Linked DNA regions of Homo sapiens. The protein of the gene in region 7 purifies or fractionates together with the protein of the main gene of each other region. This does not show direct contact. Each region holds a gene or a part of one and is shown on either strand. Other genes may lie near its edges.

Region 1 (3,500 bases), on a different chromosome or scaffold from region 7:
GTGATTCTGCTGTCTCAGCCTCCTGAGTAGCTGGGATTATAGGCGCCTGCCACCACGCCTGGCTAATTTTTTATATTTTTAGTAGAGACAGGGTTTTGCCGTGTTGGCCAGGCTGGTCTCAAACTCCTGACCTCAGGTGATCCACCCACCTCAGCCTCCCAAAGTGCTGGGATTACAGGCGTGAACCACCATGCCTGGCCTCAATGGCTATTCTTTAAACAATGTTTGTAAACCACAGCTGCACAATGCATGCCTAAGAGCGTGTGTTCTATAGCAATGAAAATACAGAAAATACACTCACTGGGAGGGCTCTTAGAGGAGGTGCTCTCCTTAATCGCCGTCTCAAACATTTCGGGCCTATAGACAAAAGAGAAAAAAAATGTGCTGATCAAACAGTAAAACTCTAACATTAAAATTTAAACAACTCAAAGATTTACAAACCAGTAACTCTGTAAAGTCTAAATTCAATTCTTAGTCATGAAGAACAGAAATCACATGCTTATCTAAAGAACCACAGCCAAAAAGACAAACCACAATTGTAAATTTAACATCCATTGCTGCCTCTCATTGGCTGCCCTTCCCCTACACTGGTTTTATTGGCATCTTCTTTCCAAGGTTAGAATGTATCCTGAAAAGAATCAGCGCCAGAATTGAGGATGCAAAGAGAAAACGCCCCACAAACGCAGCATGGAAACACAAGATGGGCTGTGAAAACAGGAGCACTTGAGGCTCTCACTCCGGAAGCAGAAGCAGAGGGCTTAGAGGCTGCCAAACCTCTGCAGACCTGGCCAAAAGCATAAAAGGTGGCCATTGGCCGGGCGCGGTGGCTCACGCCTGTAATCCCAGCACTTTGGGAGGCCGAGGCAGGCGGATCATGAGGTCAGGGGTTTGAGACTAGCCTGACCAACATGGTGAAACCCCTTCTCTACTAAAAATACAAAAATTAGCTGGGCATGGTGGCACATGCCTGTAATCCCAGCTACTTTGGAGGCTGAGGCAGGAGAATCGCTTGAACCCAGGAGGCGGAATTTGCAGTAAGCCGATATCACACACCACTGCACTCCAGTCTTGGGTACAGAGCGAGATTCTGTCTCACAAAAAAAAAAAAAAAAAAAAAAAAAAAAGTGGCCAGCTTTGCTTGAGAGCATCCCTGGGTGACTCAAAATTAAGCCTGACACCAAGCAAATGAAACCTAAAATTCATTTCAATTGATTTCAAATAATTCATGTGCATTAGCATGTACTATAAAATTCCAATTATTCTTATTTCTTTTTTTAATTTTTTTTGAGACAGAGTCTTACTCTGTCATCCAGGCTGGAGTGCAATGGCACGATCTCCTCCGCCTCCTGGGTTCAAGTGATTCTCCTGTCTCAGCCTCCCTGAGTAGCTGAGATTATAGGTGCCAGCTACCACCCCTGGCTATTTTTTTTTTTTTTTTTTGTATTTTAAGTAGAGATGGGGCTTCACCATGTTGGCCAGGCTGGTCTCGAACTCCTGACCTCAAGTGATCTGCCTGCCTTAGCCTCCCACAGTGCTGGGATTTATGGCCGCACCCGGCCCATTCCTATCTATTTCAATTATGTTAGCCTAATCCACAGATGTTCAAGCAAACAGGAGAAATTGAAAATATTCTATTAAGTTGGAGAAATAAAAGGACTTGAAAAACTAAACAGCTGCTCAGATTCCAGCAGCATCAAATAGTAACAACATAGCTGTGTAGATTTAGCAACCAAAAGTCGTTATCTCTCTAGTATGGTGGAGTCCTCCTTCCCTTCTACCAGCAGCATAAGGAAAATTTCTTCTTCTTTTTTTTTTTTTTTTTTGTTTTTGAGATGGAGTTTTGCTCTTGCTGCCCAGGCTGGAGTGCAGTGGCACGATCTTGGCTCATTGCAACCTCTGCCTGCTGGGTTCAAGTGATTCTCCTGCCTCAGTCTCCCAAGTAGCTGGGATTACAGGCACGTGCCACCACGCCCAGCTAATTTTTGTACTTTTAGTAGAGATGGGTTTCATCATGTTGGCCAGGTTGGTCTTGAACTTCTGACCTCAGGTAATCCACCTGCTTTGGCCTCCCAAAGTGCTGGGATTACAGGTGTGAGCCATCGCACCTGGCCAGAAGTTTTAAACATATACAAGAGTGCAGCTTAAAAAGCAGTTTTTCTGACTCCAGAGCTAATTCAGCCCTGCCACAAACACAAACCCACATACCCATCTCCCAGTGTCAAACACAATCAACTCATGCTAATCCCACTTCATCCAGTTTCCTTACTTTTTAATGATGAACTTAATTTTGGCTTTGTTTCTGAGTATCTTCTCCAGCCTCGGAATGCCAAAAGTCGATGGTCTTCGGAATGGCACACCCTCAGGTAAGCCTTCCACATAAAAGTCTTCCGGGAAAGACTCAAATAACGCGAACGGCACCTTCACAGCTTGTTTAAGGCCAAGAGCTTCCCCTGCAAAACAGCCGCGTACACGAAACAGAACATGGGCGAAATGACGCCATTCAATCCCGAAAAACCCACACGTTGCCAATGACAGGGATACTCCAACGCTCAGTATCCCACTCTGCTCCCTCCTACTCCCATGAAGGCACCCTGCGTGGCAGTAAGAAGGTTTCAAAATAGACTTACCACATTTCTCATTGAAGAGATTTTCAACTTTCTGTTTTAGGTCCGTGATTTTGGCATTCCAGGCCTCTGCATATAAAACATAAGAGAGTTAAATTGCAATACTTATCACAGTACTTATCAATACACATTCACAGGCAGGAGTGTTTCATCTTATTTGTGCATCTTATTTTTTTTTTGTTGAGACAGAGTTTCGCTCTTGTTACCCAGGCTGGAGGGCAATGGTGCGATCTCTGCTCACTGCAACCTCCACCTCCTGAGTTCAAGCAGTTCTCCTGCCTCAGCCTCCTGAGTAGCTGGGATTACAGGCATGCGCCACCATGCCTGGCTAATTTTGTATTTTTGGTAGACACGGGGTTTCTCCATGTTGGTCAGGCTGGTCTCGAACTCCCAACCTCAGGTGATCCGCCCACCTCGGCCTCCCAAAGTGTTGGGATTACAGGCGTGAGCCACTGCGCCTGGCCTTATTTGTGCATCTTTAAGAAGAAATAAAAAATGCATAATCTTTTACCATGATATGACTTGACAACTACTCCCATCCTGATACATAAGCAAACTGTTTTAGTACATTGCTTTTATGTTGACTACAAATAAGTGAACAAATGCTAAAATAAAGAAAAAACAAATGAAAACCCCCAAAATGCCCCCACAAATTATAGTCTCTACTACATGCGAGGTATGGTTCTAAGTACTTTAAATGACAGTATTTATAATCCTCACCATAACCTCATGAGAAAGAAAGTAATGTTATTACCATTTTGCACAAAGGGAAACTGAGGCAGGGTGTATTCGCCTGCCCAAGTGGCATCGGATTTGAACTCAGATCTGAACTCAGGCAGCCTGGCTCTACGGGCTATTCCTTTAACCTTTGATATA
Region 2 (3,500 bases), on a different chromosome or scaffold from region 7:
ACAGCGAGACCCTGTCTCAAAAAAAAAAAAAAAAAAAAAAAAGAATTTGCACAAGTAGACCTGCCATGCAAGAAACACTAAAGACAGTTCTTCAGGCTGAAATGAAAAGATACTAGACAGTAACATGAACCCACATGAGGAAATAAAGGGTGCTGGTAAAAGTGATTGCATAGGCAAATAGAAAAAATAGTACAGAAGTCTTTTCCATTTCTAACTTTTTTCTCTAAAAGACAACTGCAAAAGCAGTAATTCTAAATGTGTTGATGGACATACAATGTACTGAGAGGTAATTGTATGACAGGAGCACAAGGGAGAGGAGAAGGAACGGAATTATAAAGGGGCAAAGTCTTTGTATAATATAATTAAAATGGCATTAGCCACACAAATTTTTTTTAAATTAAAAATAACTAAACAAACTGGCATTAATCCCTAATAGATGATTATACTAACATGTTAAGTTTATCCCCCAAAGACAACTACTAAGAAAATAACTTTAAGAAACTTCAAGGGATTAAAATGGGACACTGGAAAATACCTATTTCAAACAAAAAGACAATAATGGAGTAACAGAGGAATAAAAAAAGACATGACAGAAAACAAATAACAAAATTACCTTATCAGTAATTATGGTAAATGTAAATTGGTTGCATACTGCAATTCAACACAGGGAAATCCTTTATTTTAACCTAGACATACCTTGGTTATTTCATCAGATATGCTATATTCCAAGAATCTCAAAAGAGTTAGATAAATGCGGAATTTGTTCAGCACGGAAGGCAGCACCGCTGAGAGAAGGCTGTTCATGTACTCCTCCATGTTTGGTGGAATTAGCTGGGGCTGTAAGTGAATCTGGCAGTCTGCCTGAAAAGAGAAGGAGTACACTGTATTTTCTGAGTTCCTAAATTAATCTACATTTTTAAAGAAAGATGCATCATCTCTGTCAGCCCCTATGGGAATTAGAAAATACCACTTATTATTTAGGGGGAGGGAATAATGTTTTTTTTTCTGTGTGTGAGACAGGGTTTTGTCCTGTCACCCAGGCTGGAGTGCAGTGGTGTGATTGCAGCTCACTGCAACCTGCTTCCCAGGCTCAAGTGATCCTCCCACCTCAGCCTCCTCAGTAGTGGGACCACAGGTGCACGCCACCATGCCTGACTAATTTTGGATTTTTTGTAGAGACAAGTTTCGTCATGTTGTCCAGGCTGGCCTCAAAGTTCTGGGCTCACGCAATCCACCTGCCTTGGCCTCCCAAAGTGCTAGGATTACAGGCGTGAGCCACCGCAGCCAGTGAGCATCTATTTTTAATATTAATTTACATGCTTTATAACTACCTCAGAAATAATTATGAAAGCTTTTTCTTGGTTACTTATGTTTCCTCAATGGTATCAGTAAGCACACAAAAATGTAGCCAACCTCTAAAAAGCAGCTAATTAAAAAGGTCTATCAATACTTGCACACAGAAAACATATCCTTGAGCCATTTCATTCTTAGTCAAAGGCGGTTTCTCATCAATCGCAGGTGAATACTATTATTCAGAGACTACACACCATTTGACAACTGGGAGCATTTCCCATCATCCACAGAATTAAAAGCTCTCTTTACCAGCCACTCTGAAGACATACCAGAGCATTTCACCACAAAGCATGAAAATAACTACCAAGTGACCAAGGACATTTTAAAAGAACTCTGAAATATTTTTCACATAAGATTAGCAGAAAACAATGGGTCAAAGGTAGCAAGAACAGAAGTCTGGATGTTAAAATCAGGCAATCTCGCTATGCTCAGATGTGGGTGTTTCTGCTGCCAACAGCCTTGCTGGTCTCATGACTTGCTGATACCTGAGCTTGGTAGATGTAAGGTTTTCATCCATGGCAGTGCAAAATACTCAATTCCCTTAATGATCAGCAGTCACAGTTTTTTTTTTTTTTTTTTTTTTTTTTTTTTTTTTTTTACAACAAATGTAACTTATTAATAAGCGGTACCAAGAAACAGCAAAAATGTAGGTATTTTTCCAATGTCAACCTCCCTCCATTTAAAAATGACTCATCATACCGGGAGGAGTGACCTCCCCTCCGAAGTAATGAAAACGTTAATATTGCAGGGGAATTCCATCTGATGGTAGCTGAAGTCATAATCCACCTTCTGCCACGTTATGAGGTTGCTCAGGGCTGTCACATTATGAACACCTACAAAGGCAGGAAAACACTTTCAGTCATTTGACTTTAATCATCTAAACACATCAGTTTTGCTGACACCGATGATGAGCCATGAAGTTTCTACCACTTTTAATAAAGGGTATGAGGCGCTGTCCAGTTTACTAAGCTAAACGTCACTAAGTGTGTAGGCTTACAACAGTCTTGGTCAAGGTAGAACTTTCTGGGGGCAGGCGATACCCCCGCAAATCTAATACCTAGCATCTGGTATGCACCTAGACATAAAATAGTTCCCAAGTATGATTATTTCTAAGTGGTGTATTTACAGGGCTAAACCAAGGAAACACTAAAACTACCGTCATACATAGATCAGCCTAGTGAATTTTACAGATTTTATATTCCCCTTTGCCTTAAACATGCCCAGTCTACCTCATTTTTTCTTCTACCTTTACCTCTTGAGCTGATCGCCAGCAGTGTATTCTTAATTGTCTTCATTTGAGCACTGGTAAACAATCTGCTTTCTTGTGATTTTATAATATATTCCGCAACTGAGGTTAGTGCAAACCATTTGATCTATTATTTCTCAGACATTCTCTGAAAACCATTTACAAACTTTACAACGGGAGGTTAAAACATAATTAGCCAGGCGTGATGGCGGGTGCCTGTAGTCCCAGCTACTCGGGAGGCTGAGGCAGGAGAATGGTGTGAACCCGGGAGTTGGAGGTTGCAGTGAGCCAAGATTGGCCACTGCACTCCAGCCTGGGCGACAGAGCAAGACTCCGTCTCAAAACAAAAAAAAAATTATATTAGATCTTTTCTACACTTCCCTTTTGAGGTATTAGATGACTAAAGGCAAAGCTTCCTCCCATTTCAGCTTTTTAAAAAGCTATTTGGGGCAGGTGCAGTGGCTCACACCTGTAATCCCAGCACTGTGGGAGGCCAAGGCAGGAGGATCACTTGAGCCCAGGAATTCAAGATCAGCTGGGCAACATAGCGAGACCCTGTCTCTACCATTCCTTACACTCACTGAAAAAAAAATTTTAGGTTATATACAACTACGCAAAAGAACCCAACACTGTAGGCCCATAAAGACTGCTCCAACCATTCGCTGACACAATAAAACTTTTCACCAAAGAACCCTTACGACCCTCAACATCTAATACTACCCTTTATATTACTGCTCCATTATACTAATACTACCCTTTATATTATTGCTCCATTATATAATATATAAAATATATAATATATGATATATATTAAATGAGACATTATATATTATATATGATATATATTATATAAGATATATTATATAAGATATATATCTGTTCCATTGTACTACTTTCAGAA
Region 3 (3,500 bases), on a different chromosome or scaffold from region 7:
AAGTCTTTTCCAGTGATTTCTTGCCACTGCCCAGACAAACAGAGGAACTGCCCCCACTGGCTCTGTGTTCCTGATGTACATCATACATGCCACTCCTTGAATTATAAGCATACTCAATTTATAATTTATTTTTCTATTTTCTTTTTTTTTTTTTTTTTCGAGATGGAGTTTTGCTCTTGTTACCCAGGCTAGTGTGCAATGGTGCGATCTCAGCTCACTGCAACCTCCGCCTCCCAGGTTCAAGCAATTCTCCTGCCTCAGCCTCCCGAGTAGCTGGGGTTACAGGGATCTGCCACCATGCCTGGCTAATTTTTATATTTTTTAGTAGAGACGGGGCTTAACCATGTTGGCCAGGCTTGTCTCAAACTCCTGACCTCAGGTGATCCACTGGCCTCACCTTCTGAGAGTGCTGGGATTACAGGCGTGAGCCACCGTGCCCGGCCTATTTTTCTATTTTCCTTTGAGTTCTTTATTACTGTGAGTTCTTTAAGGCAAGAAAAACGTCTTATTTATTTCTCTATCTTGAAGGTTCAGCTCACTAGCTGACTTATAGTAGGGGAAAAAGGAAGGAAGCTAAGGTTTATTGAAGGACTAGTATTTAACAGCACTGTTTAGATGCTTTAGATATTACTATATCTGACCGGGCGCGGTGGCTCACGCCTGTAATCCCAGCACTTTGGGAGGCCAAGGTGAGTGGATCACCTGAGGTCAGGAGTTCGAGACCAGCCTGGGCAACATGGTGAAACACCTTTTCTACTAAAAATACAAAAATTAGCCAGGTGTGGTGATGCATACCTGTAGTCCCAGCTACTGAGGAGGCTGAGGTAGGAGAATCACTTGAACCCTGGAGGCAGAGGTTGCCGGTGAGCTGAGATCGTGCCACTGTACTCCAGCCTGGGCAACAGAGTGAGAATCCATCTCAAAAACAAAACAAAAAAAAGATACTACTATATCTTACCTAACCTTATAACAATCTTGGGAGGTAGGTACTGATATTCCTGTTTAATAAGGGAGACTTAAACTGAAAAGTTAAATTACTTTCTGAGGTTATACACTTGCTGAGTTATAGTTAGGATCTGCCTTCACGTCCTCCTGACCCCCAAGCTTACCACCATATTCATTAAGTACTTGTGGATTGAATGTTTATGTCCATTTCTGGGCAAATTTGTCTTCAATAAGTAATTTTACTACATATTTGCTTATAAATAACCTTATTTTTTCTTTCTAGAAATGGGATTTGACCGATACAAAATGGTGGTGCAAGTAGTGATTGGAGAACAAAGAGGTGAAGGAGTATTGTGAGTAGCTGGATTTTCCTTCTTGTTTTAGTCATCTATATTTCTTATGAGGTATCTGTCCTTTGGACAATTCAGTAAGAGTGCCTTTACAAGAGTGAGAAGGGCCGGGTGTGATGGGTCACACCTGTAATCTCAGCACTTTGGGAGGCTGAGGCGGGTGGATCACCTGAGGTCAGGAGTTCAAGACCAGCCTGGCCAACATGGCGAAACCCCGTCTCTACTAAAAATTAGCCGGGTGTGATGGCGTGCGCTTGTAGTCCCAGCTACTCAGGAGGCTGAGGCAGGAGAATCACTTCAACGCAGGAGGTGGAGGTTGCAGTGAGCCAAGATCGTGTCATTGCACTCCAGCCTGGGTGACAGAGTAAGACTCTGTCTCAAAAATAAATAAATAAAATATCTTTATTATCTCTAAAATATTGTCAGTCCTTAATATCATAAAATATGCTGTTATTATTCAGATATGCCTCATATATGTATGTATGTGTTTTCTTTCTTTTCTTTTTTTTTTGTTTAAAGAGACAGGGTCTCATTTTGTCACCCAGGTTGGTGTGCAATGGCACTATCACAACTCACTGCAGCCTTGGCCTCCTGGGCTCAAGTGATCCTCCTGCCTCAGCCTCCTGAGTAGCTGGGACTGCAGGTGTGCACCACCACACCTGGCTAATTTTCTTTCTTTCTTTTTTTTTTTTTTTTTTGCAGAGATGGGTCACACTCTGTTGGCCAGTCTGGTCTTAAACTCCTGGGCTCAGGCAATTCACCAGCCTTGGCCTCCTAAAGTGGTGGACTTATAGGCTTGAACCACCATGCCAGACCTATTATTTTCTTTTTACAATTTTTTCAAATTAAGATTCAAACAAGGTCCACACATTGCATTTGGTTAATATGTAAATTAGGATTTTTTTTTAAGACGTAAGATCTTGCTATCTTGCCCAGGCTGGAGTGCAGTGGCTATTCACAGATGTGATCATAACACACTACAGACTAGAACTCCTGGGCTCAAGTGATCCTCCCACCTCAGCCTGCCAGGTAGCTGGGACTATAGGTGCACACCACAGCATCTGGCTTTAAATTTACTTCAATGTGTTGTTTTTGCTGCCTCATTTCTCTCTTTCTTCTTTTAATCCTGCCATTTGATTTTATTTTTATGACAGTCTTGCTTCCTCACCCAGGCTGGAGTGCAGTGGCATGATCTCGGCTCACTGCAACCTCTGCCTGCCGGGTTCAAGTGATTCTCCTGCCTCAGCCTCCTGAGTAGCTGGGATTACAGGCGCTCACCACCACGCCCAGGTAATTTTTGTATTTTTAGTAGAGATGGGGTTTCACCATGTTGGCCAGGTTGGTCTCCAACTCCTGACCTCAGGTGATCCACCCACCTTGGCCTCCCAAAGTGCTGGGATTGCAGGCGTGAGCCACTGTGCCCTGTCAGTTATTTATTTATTTATTTTTTCCTGCCATTTATTTGTTGAAGAAATTGGTTTGTTTGTCCTGTAGAGTTTCCTATATTCTGGCAGTTGCTGATTATATACCTATGGTATTGTTTAATATGTCTTCTATTTCCTGTACTTCTTGAAAATAAGTAGTTAGATCTAGTCTTAATTAGCCATAGGTTTGAGGTTGGGGAAATACTGTTTTCTATACATCCTATTGCATCTTCTCAGAAGGTACAAAATAGCTGGTCATCTCTTTTTGCTTTGTTAAGGTTGATCATGGAGTTCAGATATTGTCAGATGGATCCATCTATTATAAAGTTTCCCATCAGGGCCGGGCGTGGTGGCTCACACCTGTAATCCCAGCACTTTGGGAAGCTGAGGCAGGAGGATCACTTGAGCCCAGGAGTTCCAGACCAGCCTGGGCAACACAGCAAAACTCTGTCTCTACAAAAAAATACAAAAATTAGCCGGGCATGGTGGCACACGCCTGTGGTCCCAGCTACTTGAGAGACTGAGGTGGGAGGACCTCTTGAGCCCAGGAAGGTTGAGACTGCAGTAAGCCGTGATTGTGCCACTGTACTCCAGCCTGGGTGACAGAGTGAGACCCTGCCTCAGATAGGTAGGTAGGTAGGTAGGTAGATAAGTGCTTACCTTGTCTTCTAGTTTCCATTGTTTCTGTTGAGAAGTCAGCTGTAAGTTTTATTATTCAATTTAAGATGGTATGTCCTCTCTAGCCACTATTACTTTCTTTGTATTTATTCTGCTTAGAGCA
Region 4 (3,500 bases), about 56 Mb from region 7:
TGCCATATTTATCTACCAACTCTTACATATCACTGAGGGCTCCTCCTAGAGCTGTGAACTCAACACCAGCCTGTCTCACCTGAGTTGGGCATGCTCCTATGGCCAGGAGCTACTTGTTGCAGGAAGCTATAGGTATATATAAAAAGAGCAGATTTACTTTTACAGAATTTATTACCTATGCACTTGATTAAATTAGAGCATTAAAAAAGACAACTCTTGGCTGGGCACAGTGGCTCACCTGAGGTCAGGAGTTCAAGACCAGCCTGGCCAACATAGTGAAATCCCACCTCTACTAAAAATACAAAAATTAGCTGGGCGTGGTGGTGTGTGCCTGTAATCCCAGCTACTTGGGAGGCTGAGGCAAGAGAATTGCTTGAACTCAGGAGGCAGAGGTTGCAGTGAGCCAAGATTGCACCACTGCACTCCAGGCTGGGCGACAGAGCGAGACTCCTCCTTCTCCTCCTTCTCAAAAAAAAAAAAAAAAAAAAAAAAAGACAACTCTTGGTAATTGTTGTTAAAGCACAGCTTCACATAATATAATACAGGTACGATTAGGTACTGATCTTCTCGGTTACCTGTACCTATTCTGACCTTACAGTTAGTGAGGCTTAAATATTAAATCACCCTGAGTTTAGAAAGTCAAACCTCTGCTAGGATATTAAACTTCAATCCAGACAGGCATCAAATGAGTTAACAGCTATCTTATTCAGCTGCCTGTCTACCCTGACATCAGCATTAAAAATCTACTTCTGGGCCAGGTGCAGTGGCTCACGCCTGTAATCCCAGCATTTTGGGAGGCCGAGGCGGGTGGATCACCTGAGGTCAGGAGATCGAGACCAGCCTAACCAACATGGAGAAACCCCGCCTGTACTAAAAATAGAAAATTAGCTAGGCGTGATGGCGCATGCCTGTAATCCCAGCTACTCGGGAGGCCGAGGCAGGAGAATCACCTGAACCCAGGAGCCAGAGATTGCGAAGAGCCGAGATCATGCCATTGCACCTCCAGCCTGGGCAATAAGAGCAAAACTCCATCTCAAAAATCAATCAATCAGTCAATCAATCAATCAATCAATCAATCTACTTCTGCTTGGCTATTTATATTCCAAAACACCTGCCATTCTCTCTAGTTATAATTTTTAGGAATTAACCCAGCCTGGGCTGGGAGGTGGAGGTTGCAGTTAGCTGAGATCACGTCACTGCACTCCAGTCTGGGTGATGGAGTGAAACTCTGTCCCAAAAAATAATAATTATTATTATTATTAATTTTAAATCTTTCCTAAAACTGCTGTTTGATAATTCCTAGTTATATCTTATGTTACCATTGAAGGAAAAATAACAATAACCATGTTGCCATACACTCTACATGCTATCCTTTATCAACTCAGAATAGCTCTCTCTGTTTACCACCCCAAGAAGGAGGCTTCTATTTCTATTCACTGCCATCAGTCTCCCTTTGCATCTACACATACTTGGTCCTTATTTAATACCAAAGCAACCTGCACATGTTTTAAAGATGTGAAGTTTTAAGTCTATAAACATGTTGGAATCTCACCTGAATCTTAAGCACGCCAACCACCTGGGCTGTAGGTGGTGTGATGGTGAACTTCCACTCTGATCTCCAACGACCATTCCTATTAAAACACACACACAACATTGCAGAATTAGCAATAAGCACAAGAAAGAGGTGATTTGCCACTGAGGTACAGAAGTTGGGAAAGAGGGGTGCAAAAAAAGAAAAAAAAAAAGAGAGAGAGAGAAACTGTCATTTCCAGTTTGGCAAACCCAAAGCTCTGTCTACTCAAATGTAAGTCTGGATCTAAGTGGCCTGACCATAAGCCTTTTCTAAGTTATTTTGTCTTTCATTTTTCCTTTTTTCCCTTGAAATGGAAAACCATGCCTATTCTGCTCATGGGAGGCTCTTCCAAAATCAGATGAATAGGCTGCTGAGTTACACAATTAACTCAAGTAGCAGTAACCCTAAGCCAAGTAAAACTCAGATTTTCAACAGGGCACTTTACTAATCACTTGTTCTCACTCAAAATAAGAGTAACTTTTAAAGGAAAATATAATTATAAAACCTTAGAACTGTAAGGAATCTAAATCCCTCATTTATAGATGGAAAACTGAAGTCTGTAAGTTAAATAATTATTCCAAGCTAGTTGGATTAAAAACCAAGTCTCAACTGCTGGTTTCTTTCAGATGTAAATAGAAGAGAATATCTACTTCTTACCAGAAGTTTTTAGGCTGAAACTGGTGGCTTTCAATACATGCAATAATAGTCTGTTGCCCATCGATAGTTTTAGCATAAACCTATTGTTGGGAAAAAAAAATAGTTAAAGACTCCAAACACTTTTAATTTAAACAACATGCATTGTACAAAAGCAGAGTGTTAAATCCTTGGGGGAGACAAAGAATCACATAAAATGAGCTTAGAACACAATAGTGCACATGGGATATGAAAACAAAGCAGAACATGTTAGGTTCTACCAGAGACAGTGATACAATGAAAACAGAGGGAAATACTGCTCTTGGTTTGGGGTACAAGGCGGGTGCCATTTAGGCTGGGTCATACAAGACAGATGAGATTCTGATAAGCAGAGACTGAAAATAAAGGCAAGACAGGAAACTAAGGACTTGTTCAGTGAACAAGACTGTCAGGTTTAAAGGGTGTGTGTGAAGTGGACTAATGAAAGACAAAACAGGATGGTAGATTTAGGTCATGTAATAGTAGATGTAAAGTAAGAAGTTTAAGATTTTATTCTATAGGCAATGGAGAGACAGCAAAACATGACTAGAACTAATATTGTGGGAGAATAATCAATACTGGTATTCAAGATAAAACGAAGAAAAGCTGAAGCTTGGTTAGGAGGCCACAGGATTAATCTAGGCAACAAGTCAGAGTTATATTAATGGGAATGGAAAGGAAGAGTTGCACACAGAATGTAGAAGTACAATCAAAGTCTAGCAGTATATTGCAAATGATGGGCAAAGGAAAGAAGGAACTCAAGAGTGACTAAAAAGATGGTGGTGTCATTAACAAACTGGAAATTACAGATGGAGATGTCTAGTTAGTAGTTAGAAACACTAACTCTTCTTTAGTGTGGGAGAGGTGAATGGAAATGCAATCACCAAGGGAAAGTAAGAAAAAAAAAATAGCGCTTTATAGTCCACAAAATATGTTCTTACATGTATTTTCTTTTTCCTCTAATAAATCTGATGAAATACAGTGTTATCTACAGATAAGAAGTTGAAGTTCACAAAGCTTCTTGCCTAAGGTCACTCAGGAAGTGGTAAAGGTAGAATCCAAACCCACTGTTTTTGTGACACCGAAGTCTGTGTTACTTTACCTGCATTAAATGAATTATGAACTTTGGGGGAATGCCTACATTTACAAAGGTAGGGGAAAAAAAGAACTTAGTATAGAGTAAGAATAATTAGGGGGCTGGGTGCAATGGCTCAAGCCTGTAACCCCAGCACTTTGAGAGGCTGTGGCAGGGGGA
Region 5 (3,500 bases), on a different chromosome or scaffold from region 7:
CCACTGGTAACATGTTCAGAAAGCACAGGACAGGTCTCTTGCTATAGTGACTCAGCACAGACCAATAATACATGCAGCTTTTAACTGTGCACCTACTGCTCCAGTCAGCATGTCATACATTAATGCTCCCAAACTCCACCAATCCACAGCACGATTGTGGCCACTTCTCATCAAGATTTCAGGGGCCCTACAATGAGGAAAATAATATGCTTAAAAATTCACCCATTTGCATATCATCTGAATTAGAATTTTAAAAACAATATACAGAGTCAATGAGGGTACAGAAAACAGATACTATTCCTTAAAACAGGTAAAATTAGCTATTACCCCCAAACCAATTATGTTTAACATGTAGCTCACATGTATTCTATTGTTCCACAAAATGTGTGTGTGACTGTTCCATCATGAATAGATTCTTTGCATAGTCCAAAGTCTGTTAGTTTCACATGACCTACAATGAAAGATTACAGCATGATTATTCTCCGAATTATAAGTATGTGCAGTGTTTGAACATGTCACATAATACTTTAATCTATCCTTCCATTTAACTTTTCTTGCCTCAAATTTTCTTGCAGATGTCAAGAACAAGGTACCATCCATAAAATGGGATGCTAACTGTTTAAGGCTAGGGCAAAGTCACCTTTTGCCAATGATACAATCTATCTAGTAAAGAGAAAATAAAGATAGAGAAAAAAGTGAAATAACCTGTTTAAGGCTCTAGCTTTAAGTATATACAAAATTCTCTACCATCCTGAAAAAGAAAAATCCTGGGAAAACTGTTTTATGAAGTCTAGTTTACGTACACAGACCCCAATAAACATACTCTGTACCTTTTGAACAAAGGTGTGAGACAGTACTTCAAATATATAGCTTTTATCACAGTGAACTGTGAAGAGTCCTTAAAATGGTCTCAGAAACTCATTATAACAAGGTAGCTCATTCTGCCCAATGCTACCAATTAGGGGAAAGAAAGAAAATTGCTAGATAGTATGAATCAATCATCACTGATCCAGAAAGTAAAAAACTTACCACCTTACACAAAGATCATTTCAGTTCAAGTTTAGCTTTCTTTACTGGACTGTCATAACAAGTGGTTCAACAATCTCAGGGACTCTAGTATTTGAGGTTCATTTCACAGAAAAGGCACAATGACCTATTGATTCAAATGTAAATATATACTACACTCTGATACAGAAGAAGTATGGCCTTTATTTTCACAGAACCATCTGATACACTCAACCTTATAAATCAAAGAAGTTAACTATTCTATCGCTCCCCTATTCTATCCTGTGACTTATAATTCAGATCAGAATCCACGTTTTGGGGAGTGAGGAGGTGTTGATGAGAGGAAGGAAGAGACACTGATTCCCATGATATATTCAGTTAAGTATATCATTTCTCCTTAAAAAAAAAAAAAAGGTGGGTGGAGGAGTATAATCTGGAATGTTTATATGAGCCTCAGTTGTTCATACATCATTTTCTAAGAGTTTGAAACAATTAACTACCTCATGGATTATTCTGTAGACATCTAAGGATTAGCAGCTGCTACCACCTTCTAGATACCCTGGGTCAGCTGGTTGCTCCTTTGGGGTACGAGTGAATTGCCAAGTCTACCTACAGCCCAGATTAGCATAAATTGAGCTGTCTTTAGCAGCATGCAGTTGTAGTCAAGGCTCACTGTGCTATATCTATAGTTGTATAGATTATCAGTCTCTCTGATGTTTATGTTTGTTGTTACAAACAAACAGCAAGAATAAACTGATTCTGGCTGGGGGGAAGGTGGGTTATGCCTGTAATCCCAGCAATTTGGGAGGCCAAGGCAGGCAGATCAATTGAGCTCAGGAGTTTGAGACCACCCTGGGCAACATGATGAAACCCCATTTCTACAAAAAATACCAAAAATTAGTCAGGCGTGGTGGTGTGCCACAGTGGCCCCAGCTACTTGAGGGGCCGGGGTGGAAGGATCACTTGAGCCTGGGAGGCGGAGGTTGCAGTGAGCTGTAATCATGCCACCATACTCTAGCCTGGATGACAGAGTGAGACCCCCATCTCAAAAAAAAAAAAAAAAAAGTAACCTGATGCCTACTAAACATCATATTTCCAAAGTTTTATCAAATACTTTGGTTCAATTTCAATCCTTTTCCCAGCATTAATAAAACCTACTGTAAGAAGCATAGCTTCTAATATTCACATATTTTCTTTTTTTTTGAGACGGAGTCTCGCTCTTTTCACTCAGGCTGGAGTATAATGTCGCGATCTTGGCTCACTGCAACTTTCGCCTCCTGGGTTCAGGCGATTCTCCCACCTCAGCCTCCTGAGTAGCTGGGATTACAGGCACCCACCATCATGCCCAGCTAATTTTTTTTTTTTTTTGTATTTTTGTAGAGATGGGGTTTCACCATGTTGGCCAGGCGTCTTGAACTCCTGACCTCAGGTGATCCACCCACCTTAGCCTCCCAAAGTGCTGGGATTACAGGTGTCAGCCACTGTGCCCAGCCAATATTTACATATTTTCATTATTAAAACTCAACTTATATAATTGAGATTCACTTTTCAATTTAAGTAACAAGCCAAAATTAATGTTTAGACTGGCTTTTACAGTCTAAAACATTATACAACATTTGATGTAAAGATTCCAAAAACATGAAAAACTATAAAGAGTAAGGATTAAACTAAAAAAGGCAGTTGAGCGACTATTATCCTCAACTTCTTTTACTCTCACCAAGCGTAATTACCTAAAGACTTAAAATATCAGCAAGTACTATGATGCCATGAATTCTGAGGGAGGAAATATACAAAATAGAGAGATGAATTTGGGGCTTTGAAAATGGCCACGACCTATGTGGGAGGATTTTAAGATGATTATTTACTATAGAATTGTTTACGGTATGTCTCCACCTTGGTGATTAAGCATGATATTCTCCGGCTTCAGGTCTCTGTAGATGATCCCCTTTTGATGTAAATGCCCCAAAGCCATGGAGATTTCTGCCAAGTAAAAGCTGGAAACAAAAGTGATTTAATAAAATTAAAAAGAGTGTAATCTATCCAAAGCAGTTTACGTATGGAGCAAAATTCCTTGAAAGAAACAGACATGCACCAAAGACCAAATTAGTGGGGTAGGGGGATGTATTGGAAAAAGAGATGGCATAGGATGCTGCCAAAAGGCATGGGGACATTTATGTTTCACTCATTTTAGTGAAACTATAAAGTGCTTTATTTTGCCATTAGAATATATTGCTAAAATTGCAAAGATGTCCAGAATATGCTAAACTGCCATTGGTCATGTTTTGTTCTGTCTGTGTAGGAATTAAGCTAATAGCCATTCATTTCAAGCAAATTTCTCCCATCCACACCCAACTTTAAAATCCCATAGGAAATAGGAACTTTGTTATTCTCAGAGATCACATCTTGATTTCAAAAGGTATCTTATAACCTGACCCTTAGAAGCCCACTCATCCCTTACTTAATACAGCTACATATTTATAGACAGCTGAGGCCCA
Region 6 (3,500 bases), on a different chromosome or scaffold from region 7:
AGAAATCAGGGGATTCTTTAAGACACTTGAGAAAGGACAGCAGATGATCCAAACCTCTCCGGCCCCACCTCCCAGCCTAGGGCTCTTTCCTGGGCCACCCTCCACCTCTCCCATCAAATTAAATCACTTTCCTACACCTGACAGCAGCCCACTGTCATAAAGCAAGTAACAAGCCGAAGGTCTGTGTGGGAGGTTGATTTGGGAACACTGGATGTACTTAATGTGGAAAGAACCAGGAAAACTCCATCCAGATGCCATGGAGATACCAAGGGTGGCCACGACGCCAGGGGACCCAGGAAGAACTTCGTCTCCTTCACTCACCTGGTCCCCTTCTTGTTGGGCACTGTGTATGGGCGGAGAAAATCCAGCTTGTTCTTGCTGATGACGCAGAGGTCAATGTTGCTTCCGGAGCCCAGGTCGTTGAAGATGCCAGCTGCGATGGCTTCGCTCACCAGATTCTTGGCTTCCTCCTCCTGAGAAACAGAACGGCGGCAATAATGTCCCCGGCCAAACTAGGGCCTGCTCTGACATCCGCAATGTACGTCCACTAGCAGTGCGCAAGACCTCCCGCGAGACAGGTGTTGTTTTTAATGCCCATCTCACAGATGAGGAAAAGATCTCAAAGTACCTTGATTATTTACCCAAAGTTCCCGACCCAGGCCTTTAAAACTTTTTATGCATGCACCGCCTCTTGACCACATCAGACAATCACCACAAAACGATGGGCTGACAGTTACTAGAGGGTTAGTAACTTATCTTTAAAAGGGCCAGGTAGTAAATATTTTAGGCTTTGTGGCCAAAAGTCTCTACCACACCTACTCAACTCTGTCACGCTAGCACAAAACAGCCACACACAAATACATTAAAAAATGGGTATAACTGTGTTCCAATAAAACTCTATTAGCAACAGGCAGTGGGCCAGATCTGGCCCACTGACTGCAGTTTACTAACTATCCCCTGATCAAGAATGTCCAACAATAGCTGAAAGTTACTTGAGAAAGTCAGCACTGTAGGAGGAAGAAACTAACACCAAAACACAAGCCGGTAGTTCTGGGGAAATGCTGGCAGACCAAGGGCGGGACCTCTTGCCCAGAATAATCTCTCTCTCCTACTAAGGAACCTATAGGTTCACTGAAGTAATCCATTACTTTGAATCACTCTCTCCTTTGCCCCACCTTTAAACACAAATCCCCATCCCTAATAGTTACTGGTGAACAGATGGACTCATCCCTTTCTTATCCGAGAAGCCCCATCACATGCTATGTCCTATCACATGCTATACCAGAAGCTAGGGCTGCAGAGGTGGATGACGCCCCCAGATCCCTGCCCCCTAGGGGCTTAAGAGTCTAGCAGGGGCACCTGACCCAAGTAAGTACAATGCAGGGTAAGGCTGGCTAAAGAGCACGTGAAAAGGAGCTGGGAACACAGCTGGTCAGCAGAGCTTCAGGGAGGGCTGAAGGACAGGCTGCACACGAGGCACTCAGAAAACAGCAGTGAAACAGAAGGCAGGCAGCAACGGCAGTGGTACTGGACCTGGGGAACACCAAGTTCAAGCTCTATATACAACGAGGACAAAAATGAACCAGGCTCCCTGAAAGCAGGGAATCTAACCTGTGCTACGGCGCCTTCCCAGTCCACGAGGGCGTGAGAGTACATACACATGCAAGTGCACTCCAGCGCTCACCCAAGCAACACCCTTGGAGAAACACGGACTCCAGGCCCAAATCCAGCCTGAGACCCTCAAAGGGCAGATCCGCTAACCTCAAGTTTTCAGAAGATCTGAACCCACTGGGGGCTCCTGCTCCTCTGCCTGCCCCATGCCAGACTAGGATTCCAGTGACATAAGCGCCCTCTACAGACTCAGAAGGACAGAGAAGGTTCTGCTGGAAGTGGGCTCCTCAGCAAACCAGCAGATAGGGGTTCCTTTGATATTTATACCCCAGGTTTTTTCACTCTCACGTGACATCTATGTGGGGCCAATGAAGCCAATTCTTCTTTTGTACATATGCAGTCCTGTAAGAATGCATTCAAACGGGATCCGCTAATTAGGAATTTTCTCCTGGAATTCTCAACAGTCTATGGGGCCAGAAGCTTTCCACAAACCAGTGAAGGTGGCAGCAAAGAAAGCCTCTTAGACGAGGAGCTGGCAGCAGCTGCTATCTAGATAGACAGCAAAAACCAACCACTAATTCAGCAAACACAACCTCATACCTAACCGCTTCCCTTTAAATGGCCTTCGGTGTGTGCGCACATGGGCACGTGCGGGGAGAACCATACTTATTCCCCTGTTCCCGGCCTACCACCTCTGCTCCCCCTTCTCTTCTCTACCATTTAACTGTCTCCTCTGCTTTGTTTCTTATCACTGCTGCTGGTGTCTAGAGCCAGCCAGCAGTACCTGGCAGACATCGCGACCCTGCGGGCAGCGCTTAGGACTGCACATTTACATTTCCCAAATGATCTGGGTAGATGGGGACAGGTGAAGACTTGGGGAAACGGAAATATACGAATGACATGAGACATGCATATCTAGTGTCAATCCATTCGACTGGGCACAGGACAGCAGACTGCTGACAGTGCTATGTAAGATTATGAGTGATCCTCCCTCTATTTTGCAAACAGTCTGTAAGTAACTGATAAAACTTTAAAATATGCAAATTTTAAAATTATATAGTTTGATTTACTCATCAAATTATCATGTATGCTGTTATTTAAGTATGAATAAAGGCTTTTTTAAATTGGGAAAATACATCTTTTAAATTCCTTTCCTCCCCACCAATTCTAGGGAAGATCATTCCTTAAGGAAGAAAATCTCAAGTTTCTCACTTTTTTCCCCCCAGTCCCACTCCATGTCTCATATACACATGGCTGAAGATGTTAGGAGATGGAATGAAACTTAGATTTATGGAGCACCTATATGCTCACTAAAACAATCAATCAATCAACATCTACCAGCACTCTAACGTGCCAAGCCCTGAGTTGGGCACTTTGATGATCATCATGTTCACCCCTGCCCCCAACCATCTTTTGATGTTGGTATGGTCAGAAACTCTGGCTGACGGTCAATGACTTACACAAGGTCACACAGCAGGTAAACAAAAAATAGTAAAACAGGCCCATCAGGCCCCAGAGCCACAAGGCCGCAGCACCACACCAACTCGCAAGTGACCTTCCTTGGGCCGGGGGCTCCTCAGCTAGTCCCTGACTCAAGGCTGTGTCATTCACGCCCCACCACCAAAGAGCCTTAAGACCTGGGTAAATTTAAGAGGAGGAGGATGGTGTTTGCCGGTTTCTCTCTGGGCCAACCAGCAGCTCCTCTGATGGTCACTCCCATTGGGGGTTGGAGGGCAGTGTTTCCCAAAATACCCAAGACTACCACTTCAAGGGCCTTCTTCATTCTCAACCAAGTTAGGGCAACATCTCTACAATGCAACACCAGATCAATATTAAGATCTAAGGTCTTATTTAACATATCCCTCCCTTAACACCCCAAACCCTCATAA
Region 7 (3,500 bases):
CACAGGACTTAATACTAATATAGAGCTTTAGAATTTATTGAGAGCTTCCCATAAATTATTTCACATCAAAACTCTGCTTTGAGGTAGATATTTCTGTTTACCCAATTTATTGATAAAACTGAGACTCAAATTAAGTAACTTCCTAAAGTCATTTCAGGTTCATACTCAGGGCAGACAGGGCATAAACCTACTTTGTCTAACCAGAAGTTCTTTTTGCTCATATATTTGTTCATCTATAAACTTGTGAGCTACAAGCTAGCAGGTTCTGTCTAAATCATGTAATACATTACCAAGGCCCGAAACACATTTTAATGTTTCTTGATAGTGATAATGATAACAACAAGGCCGTCTGCCGTTGCCACCAACTACACTTTTAAAAATAAATTTTTCCACTAATGCCGTCTTTTATTTTCTACTGATAAGTCAACAAGCAAAACCCCCTCACATTAGGTTCTGAGGAATGCCACAACAGAAAACAAGGACGATAAAAATAGTTGCAAAAAATAACCCGTTACTAGAAAGTTCTAATGCTCAGACTGTCCAAGACAATCAATGACTCATGAAAGAAAAAAGTAAGATTTACCTTTAACTTAAGAGATTCTCCAAGTAAGGTTCCCTTATAATCTGTTGTATAGGTCCAATCATATGGTTTAATAACCTCTTTGGAGTGTTCACCCTCCGTCCTCAAATACCAAAATGAGAAGGATCAGATTCAGTGATGCAGAATAGAGATTATCTGTATTTATATATCACATCAAATTATATTCTATAATAACATATCCTATTAAATATATACACTTGTTATAATTCACCAGTACAAGGTTTTTCTTACAGTTTTTCTGCATTTATTATTTAACTTGTCATGTACTGATGTAGTCTTTTCAATTAGTCTGTATACAGCCTGAGGACATGGTTTAAAGGTTTATACTTATTTGTATCATCTAAGGTACTTAGTACATATTAGGCACAAAGTAAATAATTGCTGATTTGACTATCAAAGAAAAACATGTTGTCTTAATTTCAATGCTTCTCAAATAGGGTATTTATTAAGCATATCATAAGTAAACATTTTTTCTTAAAAACAGGAACATTAAGTATAGCCTACTGCCTCTTCAGTAAGGAACACTGAAAAATCGAAAACGTACATAGCTCAGCTCAGTTGTAATTCACTTTAACAAGTATTCAAGCAGTGGGGTAATTAACTTCCATTTTTATGTCTGAGAAAAACGAATTCTAGAATGATACAACTCTCAAGTTTAATAATACCAGCCCTTCATTCTAACAACACACACGTATCATTACTGAATATTTTTTCAAGTCTTTTCTCTTTTGTTTAACCTAATTACCTTTTTTGTTTAACCTAATTGACCGGATTCTCACCTGCTTTCTTGCCACTCTTCAGCACAGGCCACTTTAAGCATTCCTTGGTAGTTGTTTACACATCTTAACGCATCTGTAGCATTGAACTCAATTCCAAAGCCAGACCCATGCTGGATTCTTAAAACGTTGTCTCCAAACATCATTTCAGGGAGAGATGGCATATGTAATTCATCGGCTAATCTATACGTAACCAAAAGTCGGGTGAGATAATTTTATATCGCTGTTGGCATTTTTGTTTCTTTTCCATCCCAACAGAATTCTTCCTACTTGCTGAATGAGTTACACAGCACATGATTTAATCAATATGATATATTTGCAAGGTCTATAAAATGCTTTCATCATCCATTCTTTCATCATCATATGGCACTGTACTAAGTAGTGGGCTAAATAAGATAAATATACAAATACGTAATATAATAGCTTATTATACTACTATAATATATAGCACACAGATATTACTATAATATATATCATGAGGGTATGAAGAAAAGATAGCAAAGCAATTAAAGATACTGTCTCTTGTAGGAAAATAATTTTTCCATTAAAATTCTCAATTGTTAAAAGTTTCAAAACGTGGTGATGAAAAAAGCAAAAGCACCTGACACTGATGAGGGAACTCAGCACTTGCCTACACAGACTTTCAGAAGGATTGTGTCAATTTACATTTCACCCTGGGGCAACAATCAAGCAAAAAAAAAAAAAAATCACAGGAATTTAACATAATTTACACACTTATGACCCAAAGTATCAGTTTTAGAATACCTGTACTAAAGAATAATTCCAAGTACAGAAAAATATTATACACATTAATACTTATAATGGCTTTACTTATAATCATGAAAAAGAAATACTCTGAATGTTTCATTATAAAGCAACAAATGATTATGCAAACCAAAGTATATCCATATGATGAAATATTATGGAACCATTACAAATGTTTAAAGAGAGACTATAATAATATGAAAAAATGCTTATGATAAAATAGTAAGAAAAAAACTGGACACACATTGTATATTTATTACATCTAAACGTGTATTTCTGTGTGCACATATCAGTGATCTAACTTTGAGGTGCAGGTCTTCAGGACTGCACAATGTTAACAATGGTCTTCAGGACTAACAATGTTAACTTTCATCATAATTTTAAGTAAAATTTATTCTTTGTTATTAGGAGATAGAAAATATTAAATACTTAAAAGATTAGATACAATAAACTGTAATTGGAATATATATTCCATAAGATTCCATAAAATAAGTTTTAACTTGAATAATGCATACCAAATGTGAAATAATATGTGAGTCTGTGGATTCTAACCAATATATCTGGAAAAATGTGGCAGTCCTATAAAATATTCCACTCATATATGTAAAAGAATCACTGTTACTAATTTACAGTCCTTCAGTGTTCTAAATATAGAGTTTCTTAAACATAGGCCAAAATGCCCTCTTTTTTTTTTGAGACGGAGTCTCGCTCTGTTGCCCAGGTTGGAGTGCAATGGCACGATCTTGGCTCACTGCAACTTCCGCCTCCCAGATTCAAGCAATCCTCCTGTTTCAGCCTTCCTAGGAGCTGGGATTACAGGCACGTGCCACCATGCCCGGCTAATTTTTGTATTTTTAGTAGAAACAGGGTTTCACCATGTTGGCCAGGCTGGTCTCGAACTCCTGACCTCAGGTGATCCACCTGCCTCGGTCTCCCAAAATGCTGGGATTACAGGCGTGAGTCACCGCGCCCGGCCTGAAAATGCCCTATTTCTAACATCATCAAGCTTCCCACTTAAAAACAGGTATAACTAGTTACAAGGAGAGAAGACAGGAAGCTCCTGTGGTTTTAAGGTGCCTTAAATATTCATTAGAAGAGCTTCTTTAATCCAATATTTTACCCAACCAATTTATTTAGCACCTTAGTGGTTTTTACAATCTATGATAATGCATCACAGAAAAATTTGGGATTGGTGAGGGTAAGTCTTCCTTTTGTCATATAAAAAAAGGCATTTTTTTTTTTTTGGCGGAGGGTGGGGGACGGAGTCTTACTCTGTCATCCAGGCTGGAGCACAGTGGCACGATCTCAGCGTACTGCAACCTCTACCTCCCAAGTTCAAGTGATTCTCGTGCCTCAGC

The links.
Region 1: the proteins of TIPRL (region 7) and GTF2I fractionate together in Homo sapiens (co-fractionation; one large-scale study listed by BioGRID). This does not show direct contact.
Region 2: the proteins of TIPRL (region 7) and MCMBP fractionate together in Homo sapiens (co-fractionation; one large-scale study listed by BioGRID). This does not show direct contact.
Region 3: the proteins of TIPRL (region 7) and DYNLT2B purify together in Homo sapiens (affinity purification with mass spectrometry; one large-scale study listed by BioGRID and IntAct). This does not show direct contact.
Region 4: the proteins of TIPRL (region 7) and CAPZA1 fractionate together in Homo sapiens (co-fractionation; one large-scale study listed by BioGRID). This does not show direct contact.
Region 5: the proteins of TIPRL (region 7) and RPS6KB1 fractionate together in Homo sapiens (co-fractionation; one large-scale study listed by BioGRID). This does not show direct contact.
Region 6: the proteins of TIPRL (region 7) and PSMB7 fractionate together in Homo sapiens (co-fractionation; one large-scale study listed by BioGRID). This does not show direct contact.

What each region holds. Positions count from the first base shown.
Region 1 is NC_000007.14:74,748,218-74,751,717, reverse strand, and holds part of GTF2I (general transcription factor II-I), read right to left. Parts: intron 2,694-3,500; coding exon 2,628-2,693; intron 2,451-2,627; coding exon 2,267-2,450; intron 358-2,266; coding exon 302-357; intron 1-301. UniProt on the Homo sapiens protein: Interacts with the basal transcription machinery by coordinating the formation of a multiprotein complex at the C-FOS promoter, and linking specific signal responsive activator complexes.
Region 2 is NC_000010.11:119,834,844-119,838,343, forward strand, and holds part of MCMBP (mini-chromosome maintenance complex-binding protein), read right to left. Parts: intron 2,187-3,500; coding exon 2,053-2,186; intron 862-2,052; coding exon 697-861; intron 1-696. UniProt on the Homo sapiens protein: Associated component of the MCM complex that acts as a regulator of DNA replication.
Region 3 is NC_000003.12:196,304,741-196,308,240, reverse strand, and holds part of DYNLT2B (dynein light chain Tctex-type protein 2B), read left to right. Parts: intron 1-1,228; coding exon 1,229-1,298; intron 1,299-3,500. UniProt on the Homo sapiens protein: Acts as one of several non-catalytic accessory components of the cytoplasmic dynein 2 complex (dynein-2 complex), a motor protein complex that drives the movement of cargos along microtubules within cilia and flagella in concert with the intraflagellar transport (IFT) system.
Region 4 is NC_000001.11:112,657,832-112,661,331, reverse strand, and holds part of CAPZA1 (F-actin-capping protein subunit alpha-1), read right to left. Parts: intron 2,311-3,500; coding exon 2,231-2,310; intron 1,632-2,230; coding exon 1,553-1,631; intron 127-1,552; coding exon of another isoform or gene 97-126; exon of another isoform or gene 80-96; intron 1-79. UniProt on the Homo sapiens protein: F-actin-capping proteins bind in a Ca(2+)-independent manner to the fast growing ends of actin filaments (barbed end) thereby blocking the exchange of subunits at these ends.
Region 5 is NC_000017.11:59,931,121-59,934,620, reverse strand, and holds part of RPS6KB1 (ribosomal protein S6 kinase beta-1), read right to left. Parts: intron 3,000-3,500; coding exon 2,899-2,999; intron 452-2,898; coding exon 361-451; intron 188-360; coding exon 97-187; exon of another isoform or gene 93-96; intron 1-92. UniProt on the Homo sapiens protein: Serine/threonine-protein kinase that acts downstream of mTOR signaling in response to growth factors and nutrients to promote cell proliferation, cell growth and cell cycle progression.
Region 6 is NC_000009.12:124,356,443-124,359,942, forward strand, and holds part of PSMB7 (proteasome subunit beta type-7 precursor), read right to left. Parts: intron 2,745-3,500; exon of another isoform or gene 474-2,744; coding exon 322-473; exon of another isoform or gene 1-321. UniProt on the Homo sapiens protein: Component of the 20S core proteasome complex involved in the proteolytic degradation of most intracellular proteins. This complex plays numerous essential roles within the cell by associating with different regulatory particles.
Region 7 is NC_000001.11:168,181,962-168,185,461, reverse strand, and holds part of TIPRL (TIP41-like protein), read right to left. Parts: intron 1,561-3,500; coding exon 1,381-1,560; intron 684-1,380; coding exon 584-683; intron 1-583. UniProt on the Homo sapiens protein: May be a allosteric regulator of serine/threonine-protein phosphatase 2A (PP2A). Isoform 1 inhibits catalytic activity of the PP2A(D) core complex in vitro. The PP2A(C):TIPRL complex does not show phosphatase activity.